2 separate regions of the Homo sapiens genome follow, and region 1 is linked to region 2. The links come from fine-mapping of genetic effects on gene expression. A gene starts in region 2. The other region holds a variant in brackets. All regions are shown on one strand. Distances are between the middles of the regions.

Region 1 (9,254 bases), 270 kb before region 2:
TCAACAGTGTTGGAAGTTCTGGCCAGGGCAATCAGGCAGGAGAAGGAAATAAAGGGTATTCAATTAAGAAAAGAGGAAGTCAAATTGTACCTGTTTTCAGGTGGCATGATTGTATATCTAGAAAACCCCATTGTCTCAGCCCAAAATCTCCTTAAGCTGATAGGCAACTTCAGCAAAGTCTCAGGATACAAAATCAATGTGCAAAAATCACAAGCATTCTTATATACCAATACAGACAAACAGAGAGCCAAATCATGAGTGAACTCCCATTCACAATTGCTTCAAAGAGAATAAAATACCTATGAATCCAACTTACAAGGGAGGTGAAGGACCTCTTCAAGGAGAACTATAAACCACTGCTCAAAGAAATAAAAGAGGACACAAACAAATGGAATAACATTCCATGCTCATGGGTAGGAAGAATCAATATCGTGAAAATGGACATACTGCCCAAGGTAATTTATAGATTCAATGCCATCCCCATCAAGTTACCAATGACTTTCTTCACAGAATTGGAAAAAACTGCTTTAAAGTTCATATGGAACCAAAAAAGAGCCCACATTGCTAAGTCAATCCTAAGCCAAAAGAACAAAGCTGGAGACACCACGCTACCTGACTTCAAACTATACTGCAAGCCTACAGTAATCAAAACATCATGGTACTGGTACAAAAACAGAGATATAGACCAATGGAACATAACAGAGCCCTCAGAAATAATGCCACATATCTACAACCATCTGATCTTTGACAAACCTGACAAAAACAAGCAATGGGGAAAGGATTCCCTATTTAATAAATTGTGCTGGGAAAACTGGCTAGCCATATGTAGAAAGCTGAAACTGGATCCCTTCCTTACACCTTATACAAAAATTAATCCAAGATGGATTAAAGACTTAAATATTAGACCTAAAACCATAAAAACCCTAGAAGAAAACCTCAGCAATACCATTCAGGATATAGGCATGGGCAAGAACTTCATGTCTAAAACACCAAAAGCAATGGCAAGAAAAACCAAAATTAACAAATGGGATCTAATTAAACTAAAGAGCTTCTGCACAGCAAAAGAAACTACCATCAGAGTGAACAGGCAACCTACAGAATGGGAGAAATTTTTTGCAATCTACTCATCTGACAAAGGGCTAATATCCAGAATCTACAATGAGCTCCAATAAATTTACAAGAAAAAAACAAACAATCCCATCAAAAAGTGGGCAAAGGATATGAACAGACACTTCTCAAAAGAAGACATTTATGCAGCCAAAAGACACTTGAAAAAAATGCTCATCATCCCTGGCCAGAGAAATGCAAGTCAAAACAACAATGAGATACCATCTCACACCAGTTAGAATGGCGATCATTAACAAGTCAGGAAACAACAGGTGCTGAAGAGGATGTGGAGAAATAGGAACACTTTTACACTGTTGGTGGGACTGTAAACTAGTTCAACCATTGTGGAATTCAGTGTGGCAATTTCTCAGGGATCTAGAACTAGAAATACCATTTGACCCAGCCATCCCATTACTGGGTATATACCCAAAGGATTATAAATCATGCTGCTATAAAGACACATGCACACGTATGTTTATAATGGCACTATTCACAATAGCAAAGGCTTGGAACCAAGCCAAATGTCCAACAACGATAGACTGGATTAAGAAAATGTGGCACATATACACCATGGAATACTATGCAGCCATAAAAAATGATGAGTTTACGTCCTTTGTAGAGACATGGATGAAGCTGGAAACCATCATTCTCAGCAAACTATTGCAAGGACAAAAAACCAAACACCGCATGTTCTCACTCACAGGTAGGAATTAAACAATGAGAACACACGGACACAGGAAGGGGAACATCACACACTGGGGCCTGTTGTGGGGTCAGGGGAGGGGGGAGGAATAGCATTAAGAGATATACCTAATGTTAAATGACGAGTTAATGGGTACAGCACACCAACATGGCACATGTATGCATATGTAACAAACCTGCACGTTGTGCACATGTACCCTAAAACTTAAAGTATAATAAAAAATAAAATATAAAATAAAAACTTTGGCTGTTGACTCCAAATATCCTGCTTCATCATCTCTCCACTCCAGAAACTTTTCACATGCTTACAAAGGGTGTTCGTTTCTCCTCTAAGTATTTGCTCCCCAGCCCCACCTGCAAGAATGTGGAAGTAGGGACTCTGCCTGGGATGGTAACTCTCAAATATAAGGCAAGACTTGTCCCTCCACCAATATCCCCAGGACTGAAGGACTGTGAAAGTCTGCATATTGATCAAGCTTCTCCCTCCCTTATCTGAAGGGACTTACTTCCTTCAAGACACTTTTCCTCTTCCCACCTAGCTCCATGCCCCCATCCAGTCATCTTCCAACCCATCTCTCCCCACCTGCATGCCACACAAGAAGGGCATGACCACAGCACCTGGAAGTTCCTTAAAGTTGAGTGGTGTGTCAGGCCGGGTGCGGTGGCTCATGTCAGTAACCCCAGCACTTTGGGAGGCTGAGGCAGGCAGGTCACTTGAGGTCAGGAGTTCGAGACCAGCCTGGCCAAAATGGTGAAACTCCATCTCTACTAAAAATATAAAAATTAGCTGGGGGTGGTTGTGCTTGCCTGTAGTCCCAGCTACTTGGGGAGCTGAGGCAAGGGAATCACTTGAACCTGGGAGGCAGAGGTTACAGTGAGCCAAGATTGTGCAATTGAACTCCAGCCTGGGCGATAGAGTGAGACTCTGTCTGAAAAAAAAAAAAAAAAGAAATCGAATGGTGTGATTAGCTTATGATTTTTTAAAAATGGAATGATGTATTCATTTTCTAAGCTGCATAACAAATCAACACAAATTTAGCAGCTTAAAACATCCATCTATTACCTCTCCTTTCCTGTGGGTCATGAGTCTGGGGGTGCAGCTTTAGCTGGGTCCTCTGCTCAGGTTCTTACAAGGTTGTGATCAAGGTGCCGGCTGGAATTAGTGTGTCATATGAGGCTTGGGGTCTTCTCCCAACCTCACATGGTTGTTGGCAGAATTTATTTCCATGCAACTGTGGAACTCATGTGGCTGGCTTCTTCAAAACCAGCCAGGCATGGTGGCTCACGCCTGTAATCCCAGCACTTTCGGAGGCCGAGGCAGGTGGATCACCTGATGTCAGGAGTTCGAGACCAGCCTGGCCAATATGGTGAAACCCCATCTCTACATAACTTAGCCGGGCATGATTCTCAAGGAGAATCACTTGAACCCAGGAGGCAGAGGTTGCAGTAAGCCGAGATCGTACCACTGCACTCCAGCCTGGGCAACAGAGTGAGACTCCATGTCAAAAACAAACAAACAAACAAAAAACAAAAACCAGGAGGAAGGAGTCTCTCTCCTCCAGACCTTCATTGAAGATCTCACCTGAAGATGTCAGGCCCACCCTGAATAATCTCCCTTTTGATTAACTCAAAGTGAATGGATTAGGGGCTTAGTTACATCTGCAAAATTCCTTCAACTTTTTCATAGGTATAGATTAGAAGCAAGCCATGGGTCCTGCCTACACTCCAGGGGAGAGGAGATTACACCTGGCATTTATCCAGGGCAAGAACCTAAGGGGTCATCTCAGAATTCTGTCTTCCAAATAGATCCTCGGTGGAGCTTACATGCCTGGGCGAGCACCAGCCTTTGTTTAAAGGCAACAGAGAATTGTGGCCTGGCTCAGATCTCCAGCAAGCCTCCAGAATGATGGTCCACTCTCTGAACCCAGGGCCAAGGCAGCAGGAGCTTTTGGTGCACATGGGGGCTTACCCCACTTTGAGGTGAGTCGTCACATCCATATTAGACCCTAGCTGTTGCTTAGGCAAAAATGATGATTTAGAAGAAGACGGAGAGAAGAGGAGAGTTAATTTAAAAGTACTTATATTCGGCCGGGCGTGGTGGCTCATGCCTGTAATCGCAGCACTTTGGGAGACTGAGGCAGGCGGATCATGAGGTCAGGAGATGGAGACCATCCTGGCTAACACGGTGAAATCTTGTCTCTATTAAAAATACAAAAAATTAGCTGGGCGTGGTGGCGGGCGCCTGTAGTCCCAGCTACTCAGGAGGCTGAGGCAGGAGAATGGCATGAACCCAGGAGGCGGAGCCTGCAGTGAGCCGAGATCTCACCACTGCACTCCAGCCTGGGCAACAGAGCGAGACTCCATCTCAAAAAAAGAAAAAAAAAAGAGAAAGTACTTATATTCATTCCCTAGGGATGCCACAACCAAGTACCAAAAGCTGGGTGACTTGAAACCAGAGAAATTGATTGTCTTGTGGCTCTGGTAGCCAGCAGTCTGAAACGGAGGTGCCAGCAGGGCCATGCTCCCTCCTGCACTTGTCGGGGAGTCCTGCCTTGCCTCTTCGTAGCTTCCTGTGGTCTCCTGGCAGTCTTCAGTGTTTCTTGGTTTGCATACGCATCAGTCCAATCTTCCGTCCAATCCATGGCCTTCTTCCCTGTGTCTCTATGACTCGGCGTGTCCTCTCCTCTTTTATAAGGACACCAGTCATTGA[C/G]TTGGGCCCTCCCTACTCCAGGACGACTTCATCCTAATCAATAGCATCTGCAATAACCCTATTTCTTTCCTTCTTTCTTTCTTTCTTTCTTTTTTTTTTTTTTTTTTTTTTGAGACGGAGTTTCACTCTTGTTGCCCAGGCTGGAGTGCAATAGCGCGATCTCAGCTCAATGCAACCTCTGTCTCCTGAGTTCAAGCAATTCTCCTGCCTCAGCCTCCTGAGTAGCTGGGATTACAGGTGTGTGCCAACACACCCAGGTAATTTTGAATTTTTAGTAGAGAAGGGGTTTCTCCATGTTGGTCAGGCTGGTCTCAAACTCCTGACCTCAGGTGATCCGCCTGCCTTGGCCTCCCAAAGTGCTGGGATTACAGGCGTGAGCCACCACGCCTGACCCGCAATAACTCTATTTCTAAATAAGGTCACATTCTGAGCTACTAGAATTCAGGATTTCAACATGTTTTGAGGAGGACTCAATTTAACCCATAAGAATACTATGTGGGCCACACGTGCTGCTTCACATCTGTTATCCCAGCACTTTGGGAGGTTGAAGCAGGAGGATCATTGCTCAGGGCGTAGGGGGGCACCAGGTGCATAAAACCACAGCGTTGACTGGTGTGGGGGCTCACACCTGTATGTTTGGGAAGCTAAGGCAGGGCGATCACTTGAGCCCAGGAGTTTGAGGCCAGCCTGGGTGACATAGTGAGATCTCACTTCTAAAAAAAAAAAAAAAATTTAATTAACTGGGCATGTTGGTACCCACCTACAGTCCCAGCTACTCAGGAGGCTGAAGCAGGAGGGTCGCTTGAGTCCAGAAGATCAAGTCTGTGGCGAGAAGTGATTGCACCACTGCACTCCAGCCTGGACAACAGAGCAAGCCCTGTCTCAACCAAAAAAAAAAAAAAAAAAAAAAAAATCTCCCTTGTCTTCTGATTCCCTGAGCTGTCATAGAAAGGAAGTGAAGCAGTGAAAGCATCCCCCCAAAAAGGACTTTTCAAAACCAGCCTAAGCAACATAGCAAGACCTTGCCTTTAGAAACTATTTAAATTTGAAGGAAAAAAAAAAAAAGCAGTACTATGGCACAGAGTTGACAGCTACAGGTGTGGCTACATCCAGGTCCTAAAACTAAATCATCAGAATGACCCCTCACCCTCCCCCCGCTTTCCATTTTACTTTCTTAAGAATGAACATGAAATTTCCAAGATTGTTTCTCCTTTGGCTAATCTGCTTCTCAGACCCAATCACTGTGGCCAGGGTGGTGGAAGGATACTGACATCCAGGCTGGGACCACATGCCCCAGCTCCAGATCAGGGTGGGGAATGGCCAGTCGCACACATGTCGTGGGGGACTAGTGACTCCTCGGTGGAAAATCGGGGACTGTCATTGGAGAGGAGCGATAGAAGAAAGGCTGAAGCAGTGCATTGTATCTCCTGCACCAGCCTGGGCCTCAATGTCTTGAGTACTGATGACCCAGTACTCAGTCTAGGGCAATCCCAACTCCATCTGCGGGGCTGCCCACAGTACATGGACCCCCTCACTGGATTTGCTGACCACACGTGCAAACAGCCACTTCCCAGCCCCACTCCACGCAGTCCCCCTGAACCCTGTCAAAATTCCCCTCAGTTCTCACCAAGACTAAAAGCAATTCTGAGGGTGAGCGGCTCATTCTGCTAGTTTAACTCTCTCGATTCCTTCCCTCTCCAGAACTCTGTACTTACTGCTCCGTCACTGGAAATGACAATGAACATCTTCACAATCTCAGGTTTTATTGCAAAGTGATTGAGGACCAGTTAGAATAAGTTATGCTACAGAAACTAAAGAAATCCCGTCAAACAAATGGTATGTAATAGAAAGTCTTAGGGCAGCCGTGTATATTTTCTCCCCCAATGAATCAATTGAAAATGAGAAGCTGTTACCGCCATGTTCCGGGCAGAAGCTATCAAAAGTATAAGCCATGATATTATAATTTGATGATTTTTCATCCGTCAAATGGATATGGCCCAGGGGTGAAAAGTGGATGCTCCGTAACTAGATGATGGTCAAGAGTTATAAAAATGAGGTCCTCTCTGTTCAACATTTCTCCTTTCTTGAAAGGATACTCAATGTCATGCTCAGGGCCTCTAATGGCCAGAAATAAATTTCCTCCCAGTTCCAGAGCACCCCAGGGCAACCCCAAAACCAGAGCAACTGCTTATTGCCATGTAGACTATGTACTATGCAATTCCTGGGGTGGCATTTTCATAAATATGTGGGTGGCGCCCCCTGGAGGTATGCAATGCACAACTTGCACAAATGGTAAGTCATCGTATCCCAAGGTCCACAAAGAAGAGGTAAACAAAATTCCCATCGATGTTGCCATCAGTCATGAGTCTGCCTTTTCTTCATGGGACAGTAGCAAAAACAATTTGGCCAAGTGTGCTTGGATGATCTCTAAGATGGAATCAGGGTCTCTCACTTTCAGCACTATTGACCTTTGGGGCTGGATCATTATTTTGTCTTAGTGGGATTTGTCCAGGGAATTGTAGGATGTTTAGCAGCATCACTGGCCTCTACCCATTAGCTGCCAGTAGCACCACCTCCTCCAGCTGCAACAACCAAAATTGTCTCCAGACATGGTCACATGTTCTCTGGGGGGCAAAATCACCCCCTGGTTGAGAAGTCCTGAAGTAAAGACATAATACGCAAATCACATGTAAGTAAGAGAGCCTAAGGGCCACACAGGTGATGCTGTATCCATGACAAAGACAGAGACTTAAAGAGATTAGAGAGGTGGAGAAAGATAAAAGAAATGAAGTCCCAGCTGCCGAGAGCAACAGATGCTGACTAGATGTTGTTGATAGTCATCTTTAAACTGAGTTAAAAGATGCTGAGAAGCAATCAGCTGCCATCCTGCCCTCCAGGGACAACGCTGCTGAAAAAGGCCTGGAGAGCAACAAAGCCCCAAACGCAGGTGCACTGAGTAAAGAAACCAGAGATTGAGACAAAAAAGACATTCCCTCAAAGACTACTCATTTCCAAGAGGGGAGAAAAAGTGGAGTCATGAAAAACAGTTGAGGCTGGGTAGAGTGACTCGCACCTGTAATCCCAGCACTTTGGGATTACTCCCGGGCTGAGATGGGAAGATTGCTTGAACTCAGGAGTTTAAGACCAGCCTGGGCAAGATAGCAAGACCTTGCCTCTAGAAAAAGGGAAAAAATTAGCCAGGTGTGGTGATACATGCCTGTGGTCTCAGCTACTTGGGAGGCTGGGGTGGGAGGATCGCTTGAACCCAGGAGGTAGAAGCTGCAGTGAGCAGGGATCGTACCACTGCACTCCAGCCTGGGCTACAGATCCTGTCTCAAAAAAGAAAAAAATTAAACAAAATTAAGGCTGGGCACGATGGCTCATTCCTGTAATCCCAGCACTTTGGGAGGCCAAGGTGGGCAGATCACGAGGTGAGGAGATTGAGACCATCCTGGCTAACACGGTGAAACCCCATCTCTACTAAAAATACAAACAAGTAGCCGGACATGGTGCTGGGTACCTATAGTCCCAGCTACTCTGGAGGCTGAAGCAGAAGAATGGAGTGACCTCGGGAGGTGGAGCTTGCAGTGAGCCAAGATCACACCACTACACTCCAGCCTGGGCAAAAGAGCAAGAACCCATCTCAAAAAAAAAAGAAAATTAAAAATTTTTTTGAGACCAAGTCTCACTCTGTCACCCAGGCTGGAGTGAAATGGTGCGATCTTGGCTCACTGCAACCTCCGCCTCCTGGGTTCAAGTGATTCTCATGTCTCAACCTTGTGCCTCAACATGACTACAGGCATGTTGTCACCATGCCTAATTTTTGCATTTTTAGTAGAGATGGGGTTTCACCATGTTGTCCAGGATGGTCTTTAACTCCTAGGTTCAAGCAGTCTACCCACCTCAGCCTCCCAAAATGCTGAGATTACAGGCATGAGCCACCGTGCCCGACCTCTAACTTTTCATTATGGAAATTTCCCATATACACAAAAAGCAGGGAGAGAATTATACCATGAACCCCCATGCACCCATCATCCCACTGGAAGAACTTGTCAACATTTCTCCAATCTCATTCCAGTTCCCACTTTTCTTTTCCTTCTTGCTATTTTAGGACATTTTAAAGCAAATTCCAGACATTTCATTTCACCCATATCCATAACACACCAGGGTGCATTCTTGATGTAAGGATTTTGTTTTGTTTTATAACACCCATGACATTGCCACAGTTAATAGATTTAACATGAAGAAACTAAGATTCTTGCAGGTGGAGAAAAGATCTAATTACCACCTTAAAGCCTCTCCTACTAGAGCTTCTCAGAGCTGAACATGTATGCAAATCACCTGGGCATCTTGTTAAAATGCAGATTCTGGCCCAGGAGGTCCTTCCGGGTGAGCCCTGAGAGTCTTCAATTCCAAAAGCTCCCAGGTGATGCAATGCTAAGGGTCCATGAATCACAAAAGAGGAAGGGTCGGTCAAACACCCACAACAACTGGGTGCAAAGTCCTGACTGTTCCTGACTGCAGGGCCTTCAGTGAACGGGGAAGCTGGGGACCATTTGGGAAAGAAGGGAGGTTTTTCGTATCAGCTCCAGGCCTTGTAGAACTGCCAGGGAATAACAGACACAAGGTCAGCAAAGTCTAACCAACAGCACGAGTGCATTCATATTCCACAACCACTGCAGCAAAGAACCATGAAATGGGTGGCTTCAAACAATGTCTGGGCCGGGTGCCATGG
Region 2 (9,165 bases):
CCACTTTTTGGCTACTGTGAGTAACGCTGTGAGCACTGGCGTTTAAGTGTGTTTAGTCCCTAGTTTCATATCTTTTGGGTTTATACCGAGAATGGAATTGCTTGGTCATTTGGTAATTTTATGTTTAACTTTTTGAGGACATGCCAAACTCTTTGCTTTCTTAATTATGATAATGCTTAAGTGAATATCTGTATTCATGAAGCTTCTTTGACACTTCCTCTTTTTTTTTTTTTTTTTGAGATGGAGTCTCGGTCTGTTGCCCAGGCTGGAGTGCAGTGGTGCGATCTCGGCTCACTGCAAGCTCTGCCTCCCGGGTTCACGCCATTCTCCTGCCTCAGCCTCCTGAGTAGCTGGGACTACAGGCGCCCCCCACCATGCCTGGCTAATTTTTTGTATTTTTAGTAGAGACGGGGTTTCACTGTGTTAGTTAGGATGCTCTCGATCTCCTGACCTCGTGATCCGCCCTCCTTGGCCTCCCAAAGTGCTGGGGTTACAGGCGTCAGCCACCGCGCCCAGCCTCCTCTTATTTCTTTAAATTCCTTGAAGTGAAATTAATGGGTCAAAAGGTGCAACAATTTGAGATACCATGCTAAATCCTATCTGAAAGGCTTGAACCCCTTTTGCTGCTGCCACAAATGTCTGAGAATGCCCTTGTCACCAAACCAACATGGCACTTAATATTTCACTGTTTTAAATGTTGGAGAATATTGTTGTCCATTTCTGGTGGAACCATAGTCTGGCGACAGAATGGCTTGCCTGACACAGCTTTTGATCACCAGCCCCAAGTCCTTCTCCCTCCCCTTCCCCTTATCCTTTGGTGCTGATCCAGCCCAGTTTATAGGTTCTGTTACATCTAACTTCCCAACTGTCTCTAGTCTGGTCACTTCTCCCCATCTGCCCAGCAAAGATGAGGTCGATTTGACTTGTAAAAGATTACCTTTTCTAAACAGTTTAAAAAAAAAAAGATGTCCTCTAACTCTGGGCCTCCCGCTGCCACTGTGCCTCTTCTCTAGAAGGCCTGAGGTCTCTGTGGAGCTTCCTACTTTGGCTGCTTCTCACATCTTTTCCTATCTTTCCTTCCTGCTATTCTCCTTCAGTTCTACAGCGAGTCGGGCATGCCTACCAAACATCTTTCAGACAGTGTGTGTGCTGTGTGTGGGCAGCAGATCTTTGTGGACGTCAGTGAAGAGGGGATCATTGAGAACACGTATAGGCTGTCCTGCAATCATGTGTATCCTGCCTCGAGCTCCTGGGCCACATCTCTCCTGCAATCTGCACACTGTAGTGAGAGAGAGAAAGAGGGTGGTCATGACCCTAGGCATGCTGTCCAGACCCTTGAGTGTAGGAGAGCCACAAGAGGGCCACCTTCCCTACCCTTTCCCACAGATCAGAGCCACTCTTAGGTAAACAGTGGTTACAACCTGGCTGGGTCTGAGAGGAACCTGAGGCTGCAGCTAGTGAGGCTGTGCTAGCAGACCTGAGATCTGACCAGTCACAGGGGAAGAGGACCCTCTAATGGGATCCCTCAGTTTAGCATCATCCTCTGTTCTGAATAACACTTGTAATATTTATCATGTATTTACCCAGCTCCCATTCTCTGCCTATGTTGGGAAAGCCATGTATTGTCTCCATTTTGCCCCATAACAGTCTTGTGAGATAGGGATCATTATCCTTACTTCACATGTGAGGAAACAGGTTCAGACACAGGGACTTGCCCAACATTACAGAGCTGATAAAGAGCGAAGGCAGGATTTGAACCTTTCAAAGACTGTCTGGGGCTGGAGTGCCGCCCTGGCTCTCACCATTTCCCTTGACCAGCGGTGCTCAGCTTCCACGAGTTCTGCATCCGTGGCTGGTGCATCGTGGGAAAGAAGCAAACGTGTCCCTACTGCAAAGAGAAGGTAGACCTCAAGAGGATGTTCAGCAATCCGTATCCTTTATTGGGGTCGTTGTTGGGAGTGGGCTGTGGGAAGAAAGTACTGGCCAGTGTGACCTGCATTTGGGTCCTCCTGGGGCCCTCACTTCTGCCCCCAACCAGAACATGTCAAACCATGGTGGGAAGCTGAGCTGCTAGTCCTGCCCCCATGATACAACCCCAGTTTCCCTATTCTAGGATTATTGCCTATTCTCAGCCTCCTTGCAGCCATTGTCACGGATAGATAGACTTGTGTCAGCCTCAGGCTGTGTTATCTTACACTGGCAGTTCCTTCTTAGAGAAGGTGTTACAGGAGGCCCTCCCTGCATGTTAGTCATGGGGAACTAGGATTTATCTCTATACCTCTCTCAGGGCTGCCCTGCCTCCAGTACCAGTCCCCTCTATCTGCCTCCCACCTTCTCTGCATTCAGCTCTTTACCCCAACAGACAGGCTGTGAGGAGGAAGAGGAGGGGGAGGGCAAAGTTGGGAGGGCTGCCTGAGTAGGAAGTGAGGCTGGGCCCTTCCAGAAAGCAGCCTCCATTCCTCTAGGCTGTGGAGCAGCTGGAAAGTGGGGCAGACCCAGGGAGCCCCACCACCCATGCTAGATCACTCCTGGCAGCTCTTGCACAGAGTCTCTTTTCTTTAACACACTGACAGCTGGGAGAGGCCTCACGTCATGTATGGGCAACTGCTGGACTGGCTTCGATACTTGGTAGCCTGGCAGCCTGTCATCATTGGTGTAGTCCAAGGCATCAACTACATCCTGGGCCTGGAATAGTGATGAAGAGCATCAGTGGAAAACCCACCCCACACGCCATGGACCTCAGGGCACTCTCCTCCCTGCCCACAAAGACCTCCTGGGTGGGAAAGACTCAAAGGGGTGCTTGGGCCACTCAGGACCCCTCTGGCTGTGTCGGACTGGGGAGGGATATGATGGAGAGCCAGCCAGTGGGGCTGTCAGCAGTGGGGGGCTTTTTAAAAGAAAACTATTTTGATGAATATATTTAAAAAACCTTTTTTTATTGTGGAGCATAGGAATTGCCCCCCTCCAGGCTTCACCCTCCCTGCCTAAGCAGGGTGGGGGCAGAGCCATGACATTTTTGGTTTAAAGGAGCCTTCTCATCTCTGGCCGAGAACACTGCTGGGCTCCCAGGTAGCTGAAGGCCTCAGCCCACCCACTCCCTTCTTCCCTGTGTGGGGCTCAAGCCTGGTGCACTTAGTATAGAAGAGCTAACGTACTCAGGCTTGTGCCACGGGTGAGCACTGAGGCCCCAGGTGTCCTCCCTCCCCCACTGTCTGGGACACAGGACAGGTGTTGCGTCTGACTCTGTCTCCCCCTGTCCAAGAGCTATAGGCTGGTTGAGGCAAGTGGAACCTTATCAGTGACTTGGCCAACAAGGGAAGCCTTGGGGCCTCAGAATTCATTGAAGATTTGTTTTGGGACAACTGGAAGAATCAGCACCATGGATACTCGCCCGTGGGCAGGGCTGTGGTCAGCCAAGAATAGAGGTCATATAGTTGGGCCATGGGGCAATTGTTGGCAGCCATGACTGACGGCCCCTTGTGCAAGCTCATTCTTCAGTGGATCCTTCAGTGGAGTGGTGACACGTGCCAGCGGTCACTCTGCCACATCACTTCCTTCTTGAAAGCCTAAGAGTGCGTATGCGTGTGTGTGTGTGTGTGTGTGTGTACGTGAGGCAGAAGAATATGACAGATGTCAGCTTCTCCCTGTGTCAGATGATATGTCCTTGAAGCTGGCAGGGGATTCCCAGTCCAGGGAATATCCCTACATGATTTTTGTCATTCATGGGTCCTCCCTGGGCCTGACAACGGGAGTGGTGGGTGGGTGAGAACAGGTTCTGAGAGGGGGCTTCTAGGAAGGCCCCAGCCCTAGTCCTAGGCGACTTGAATAAAGTGGGAGGTCAAACATGGGCCTTCGGCATTGGGTTTCTAGGGAATATGGCTCAGTAGGGCCTGCCCCTTCAAGGGCAGCAAGAACGAAGCAGGATGTTGTCACTCCCGTCTGAATAAAGCTCCATGAGCTGGGTTGGAAAGCTGAACATTTATCTTGCTTTCTTCTTCCCACCTCTTTCCCTGGGGTCCCCAGGGGTGTCTTGCCTTTGTTAACCCCCATCGGAGACCTGAGGGTCTGGGGGTGGTTGGGCCTGCCTTTCTGCTGTTCCCAGCTGTTCCCCTGCTGACATCCCTAGGAGTGGTGGAATGCCAGGCTCCTGTCCTGTGGCCTGGGGGCCTGGGGCATCATTGGGCCTGCCTTCAGACTGAGGTTGCTCTATGTTCTCACTGCCTGAGGACAGTGTCCCGCCACCACCTGCCTTCCTGAGGACCACACTCAGGCTCGGCTTCTCTTCCCCAGCTGTGGCTTCCCATGGTACCCTGCTGCTTATGCCACCTGTGGGGCTGTTCCCCTCCTCAGAGAGGGGAATGGGGCTGGTCAGAGGACCTAGGGATCACCCTTCCTTTTACTTTTTCCCCCCACCCCCCTGTCAGGCTCAGGTGAGAAGCCGAGGCCAGGCTGTCCAAAGCTCTTTTCATGTGTAACAGTTCTGAGTCCCTTGACCTCCCCCCTTGGCCTGACTCTGGTCTCGGTTCCACTAAGACAGAGTCCTGTCATCTTTCCCTACCATCCCCCACTGGACTGTCTCTCTCAGAAACCCCAGGCAGCCTTGCCTCCTGACCTAACTCCTGGAGATGCTGGTGTTCTTGGGAGGAATTTCTCCTGCATCTTACATGCTAGAAGCCCCTGGGGCAGGAGGTAGGGGGAGGAATTGAGAGGAGGAAAAACATGAACTAGACACCTAGAGAAGAAGGATGTGACTTGTAGTATCCTATGTCTAAATTAGGAATATGAATCTGGTTTTTCTACAAGAAGTTTGAGATCACAGCTGACTGTGTTCCTGATGCATCCACCAAACCCAGTTCCATCTGTGGGCCTCCCTGGCTCTGTCACCAGCCGTTGCACCCTCCCAATCACAGGAGTCACAAACCTCAGACATGCAGCTCCTGTCCACACTTAATATATGCATGCATTGGATCACCCAGCCCTGGTCTTTCTGCCTCCATGGATAACTGCATGACCCTGAGAGAAAACCTCCTTAGATTTAGCATCCTAGGTTCCTCACACGCCTCACCCTGAATCCTGGCCCTCCCGCAGCCCCAGCGCCATTTGTCCCATCAGTGACAAGATTCATATTCTGATGTAGACTCTGTTGCCAGAGCCAGTGTTGAGCCAGTCCGCCTCTTCCCCGGGAAGTGCCTGCCCTTCCCTCCTGTTAGGGTTGGCTCTCGAGCTTGTGTGCCAGTTCCTGGGTTGGCCGTGAGAGTTCTACAGACAAGGAGGAAGTGCTCTCGGTGTATTTCCTGTGGTGGGTTCACACGCAGCTAGACACAGCTAACTTGAGTCTTGGAGCTCCTAGAGGGAAGCTTCTGGAAAGGAAGGCTCTTCAGGACCTCTTAGGAGCCAGGTAGGAGTCTGGGACTACTAGTGAACCTAGACCTGTGGCTCTGGCCAGAGGGGCTAGGATGAGAGACAGAGGGTGTGATGGTGGGTGCTGGGAGATGTAGCCGACCTTGGGGCTGGTGGCTGGGGGAGTGGGTAGCCTGGGAAAGGCCAGGATGTGGACGGACTGGTATGGCATTGAGCCTGAAGTGGTCCAACTTGGGGTTCCCCAGTGCCTAGGAAAGTTGTCCCCTTGAATGTCAGTGTGAAGGTGAAGGAGGAAGCAGATGCCTGTTCATATGGAAACAAAGACCTGGCTGTGAAGAGGGGAGGCGGACACCAAAGTCCTGACACTTGGGCGGGACAGAATTGATCTGTGAGAGACTCATCTAGTTCATACCCTAGGTGACCCTGGGGGTGGCATGGGGGTAGATTAGAGATCCCAGTCTGGTATCCTCTGGAGAGTAGGAGTCCCAGGAGCTGAAGGTTTCTGGCCACTGAACTTTGGCTAAAGCAGAGGTGTCACAGCTGCTCAAGATTCCCTGGTTAAAAAGTGAAAGTGAAATAGAGGGTCGGGGCAGTGCTTTCCCAGAAGGATTGCTCGGCATCCTGCCCTTCCCAGAAGCAGCTCTGGTGCTGAAGAGAGCACTGCCTCCCTGTGTGACTGGGTGAGTCCATATTCTCTCTTTGGGTCTCAATTTTGCCTTCCCTAATGAAGGGGTAAGATTGGACTAGGTAAGCATCTTACAACCATTTGTGGTCATGAGAGCTGGGGTGGGGAAGGATTGTCACTTGACCCCCCCAGCTCTGTTTCTAAGTGCTGAAAGAGCTCCAGGCTATGCTACGGGAGGAGAAGCCAGCTACTGAGGAAAAGCCAGCTACTGAGAAAAAGCGGGAGTGGTTTACCATTCTCCTCCCCCACCTTTCACCAGAGAAGAGGACGTTGTCACAGATAAAGAGCCAGGCTCACCAGCTCCTGACGCATGCATCATGACCATGAGACACAACTGGACACCAGGTAGGCCTTGGGGCTACGCATGGGCAGGCGGGGTAGGGTGAGGTCTATGAACAGAATGGAGCAATGGGCTAACCCGGAGCCTTCACTCCAAGGCAAACCACCCAGCGCACCTGGTGCTGTTGCTTTAAGAACCTGGGCAGATATTGTAGCTCTGGCTCCAGTCTAAAGCTTCTCTGTACTCTGTTCAATAAAGGGCTAAGGGGTGGGTGCTGAGGGGTCCCTCTTCCCGCTCTGATTCCCTGGCTAGAACCCAGACATCTCTGGGCTGGAGTTACATCCTTACCCGGGCAGCCCACTCTGTCTCCAGAGCCGCTGACCTGTAACTGTCCTTTCCTCAGACCTCAGCCCTTTGTGGGTCCTGCTCCTGTGTGCCCACGTCGTCACTCTCCTGGTCAGAGCCACACCTGTCTCGCAGACCACCACAGCTGCCACTGCCTCAGTTAGAAGCACAAAGGACCCCTGCCCCTCCCAGCCCCCAGTGTTCCCAGCAGCTAAGCAGTGTCCAGCATTGGAAGTGACCTGGCCAGAGGTGGAAGTGCCACTGAGTAAGAAGCACAGTGGTGGAGGGTGGGCTATGGGCACAGAGGTTCCCAGGGTCGGGTTGACTCCTGAGCGCCAGTCCCCTTCTGCCCATGTACCACCAGCTGAGCCAGCTGGGCTGAGCACGCACCATTCTCCCTCCCCAACCCAGTGTCATGGGTGCAGGCTTGGCGCAGCTCCCAAGATGCTCCCTATCAAATAGGACAGAGAACTCAAGACATAAGTAATGGTCACAGGACCTCCCAGAGCCTTGGTTGCAGTGGACCCCAAGGCCAGCCCCTCCACCCAGAGCCTGCTGGCCTCTGGCCATCTCAGAGGAGCAGCAGCCATCCAGCACTGCCTTTGTCACCTGGGCTCCCAAGTCACCGAGGCTGGGCACTAGAAAAGGTCATCCTGAGGAGACAGGTTCAGAAGAGGATTCATCACGTGAACCAAGGACCATTCCTCACATTCCCCGTGTTTAGGGCTAGGGCCTCTCGGAGACAACTGCACTTCTGTAACGGACGTTCCCACCTAGGTGGTGTGCAGAGCAGTTCTCTAGGTTCCAGATGCATGGGGACTGGGGGGAGCTGGCAGGGAGGGCACAGCAGAGCAGGGTAGGGGAAGGGCCTGCTCTTCTGAAGAGCTAACTGCTGCCTGTGTCCCTAGATGGAACGCTGAGCTTATCCTGTGTGGCCTGCAGCCGCTTCCCCAACTTCAGCATCCTCTACTGGCTGGGCAATGGTTCCTTCATTGAGCACCTCCCAGGCCGACTGTGGGAGGGGAGCACCAGGTGAGGGTCGCAGCAGCCAGGTGGGTGGGAAGGAGGCCTTCTGCGGCCTTCTCATGACCTTTCCTTCCCTTCCGCTCCAGCCGGGAACGTGGGAGCACAGGTACGCAGCTGTGCAAGGCCTTGGTGCTGGAGCAGCTGACCCCTGCCCTGCACAGCACCAACTTCTCCTGTGTGCTCGTGGACCCTGAACAGGTTGTCCAGCGTCACGTCGTCCTGGCCCAGCTCTGGGTGAGGAGCCCAAGGAGAGGCCTCCAGGAACAGGAGGAGCTCTGCTTCCATATGTGGGGAGGAAAGGGTGGGCTCTGCCAGAGCAGCCTGTGAACTAATGCCCAGCATTCCTCAAGGTCAGCCAGACAAAAAGGAACTTAGGTCTTGGGCAGAGGAGGTGTAGCCTGGGGCAAAGTGATGAGATGTCCCTCCTTTCCTTGGCCTGATCCTTGTCTGCCTTCACTTCCCTAGGCTGGGCTGAGGGCAACCTTGCCCCCCACCCAAGAAGCCCTGCCCTCCAGCCACAGCAGTCCACAGCAGCAGGGTTAAGACTCAGCACAGGGCCAGCAGCAGCACAACCTTGACCAGAGCTTGGGTCCTACCTGTCTACCTGGAGTGAACAGTCCCTGACTGCCTGTAGGCTGCGTGGATGCGCAACACACCCCCTCCTTCTCTGCTTTGGGTCCCTTCTCTCACCAAATTCAAACTCCATTCCCACCTACCTAGAAAATCACAGCCTCCTTATAATGCCTCCTCCTCCTGCCATTCTCTCTCCACCTATCCATTAGCCTTCCTAACGTCCTACTCCTCACACTGCTCTACTGCTCAGAAACCACCAAGACTGTTGATGCCTTAGCCTTGCACTCCAGGGCCCTACCTGCATTTCCCACATGACTTTCTGGAAGCCTCCCAACTATTCTTGCTTTTCCCAGACAGCTCCCACTCCCATGTCTCTGCTCATTTAGTCCCGTCTTCCTCACCGCCCCAGCAGGGGAACGCTCAAGCCTGGTTGAAATGCTGCCTCTTCAGTGAAGTCATCCTCTTTCAGCTCTGGCCGCATTCTGCAGACTTCCTATCTTCGTGCTGTATGTTTTTTTTTTCCCCCTTCACTCTAATGGACTGTTCCAGGGAAGGGATGGGGGCAGCAGCTGCTTCGGATCCACACTGTATCTGTGTCATCCCCACATGGGTCCTCATAAAGGATTATTCAATGGAGGCATCCTGACATCTGTTCATTTAGGCTTCAGTTCCACTCCCAGGAACTTTGCCTGTCCCACGAGGGAGTATGGGAGAGAGGGACTGCCACACAGAAGCTGAAGACAACACCTGCTTCAGGGGAACACAGGCGCTTGAAAAAGAAAAGAGAGAACAGCCCATAATGCTCCCCGGGAGCAGAGGCCACTAATGGAGAGTGGGAAGAGCCTGGAAAGATGTGGCCTCAGGAAAAGGGATGAGAGAAAGGAGGTGGTATGGA

Alleles and levels. Positions count from the first base shown, and alleles are read on the strand shown. Sizes are in standard deviations (SD) of each study's normalised expression.
With allele G in place of C in region 1, the expression in cerebellum of the gene that starts at base 5,288 in region 2 is lower (large effect, 1.1 SD a copy in GTEx).

What was found. PIP is the estimated chance that this variant, and not a neighbour inherited with it, causes the effect.
Region 1: its variant is fine-mapped to the expression of IL18BP in cerebellum (GTEx, PIP above 0.99). The same link has a PIP of 0.9 or more in esophagus muscle.

The regions. Positions count from the first base shown.
Region 1 is chr11:71,727,807-71,737,060 of GRCh38, forward strand. It overlaps the pseudogene ENPP7P8. Among named protein-coding and RNA genes, the nearest start is that of DEFB108B, 100 kb to the right of the region's middle. RefSeq lists an enhancer at 6,807-7,680. The variant C/G (reference allele first, on the strand shown) is at 4,520.
Region 2 is chr11:71,993,622-72,002,786 of GRCh38, forward strand. IL18BP (interleukin 18 binding protein) reads left to right here and starts at 5,288. Exons shown (of 6, transcript NM_001039660.2): 1 at 5,288-5,398; 2 at 6,306-6,391; 3 at 6,730-6,936; 4 at 7,580-7,703; 5 at 7,784-7,931; 6 at 8,163-9,165. The coding sequence starts at 6,364. The coding sequence ends at 8,240. It overlaps RNF121 (ring finger protein 121), which reads left to right. Exons shown (of 9, transcript NM_018320.5): 7 at 1,098-1,231; 8 at 1,829-1,930; 9 at 2,574-3,976. The coding sequence ends at 2,694.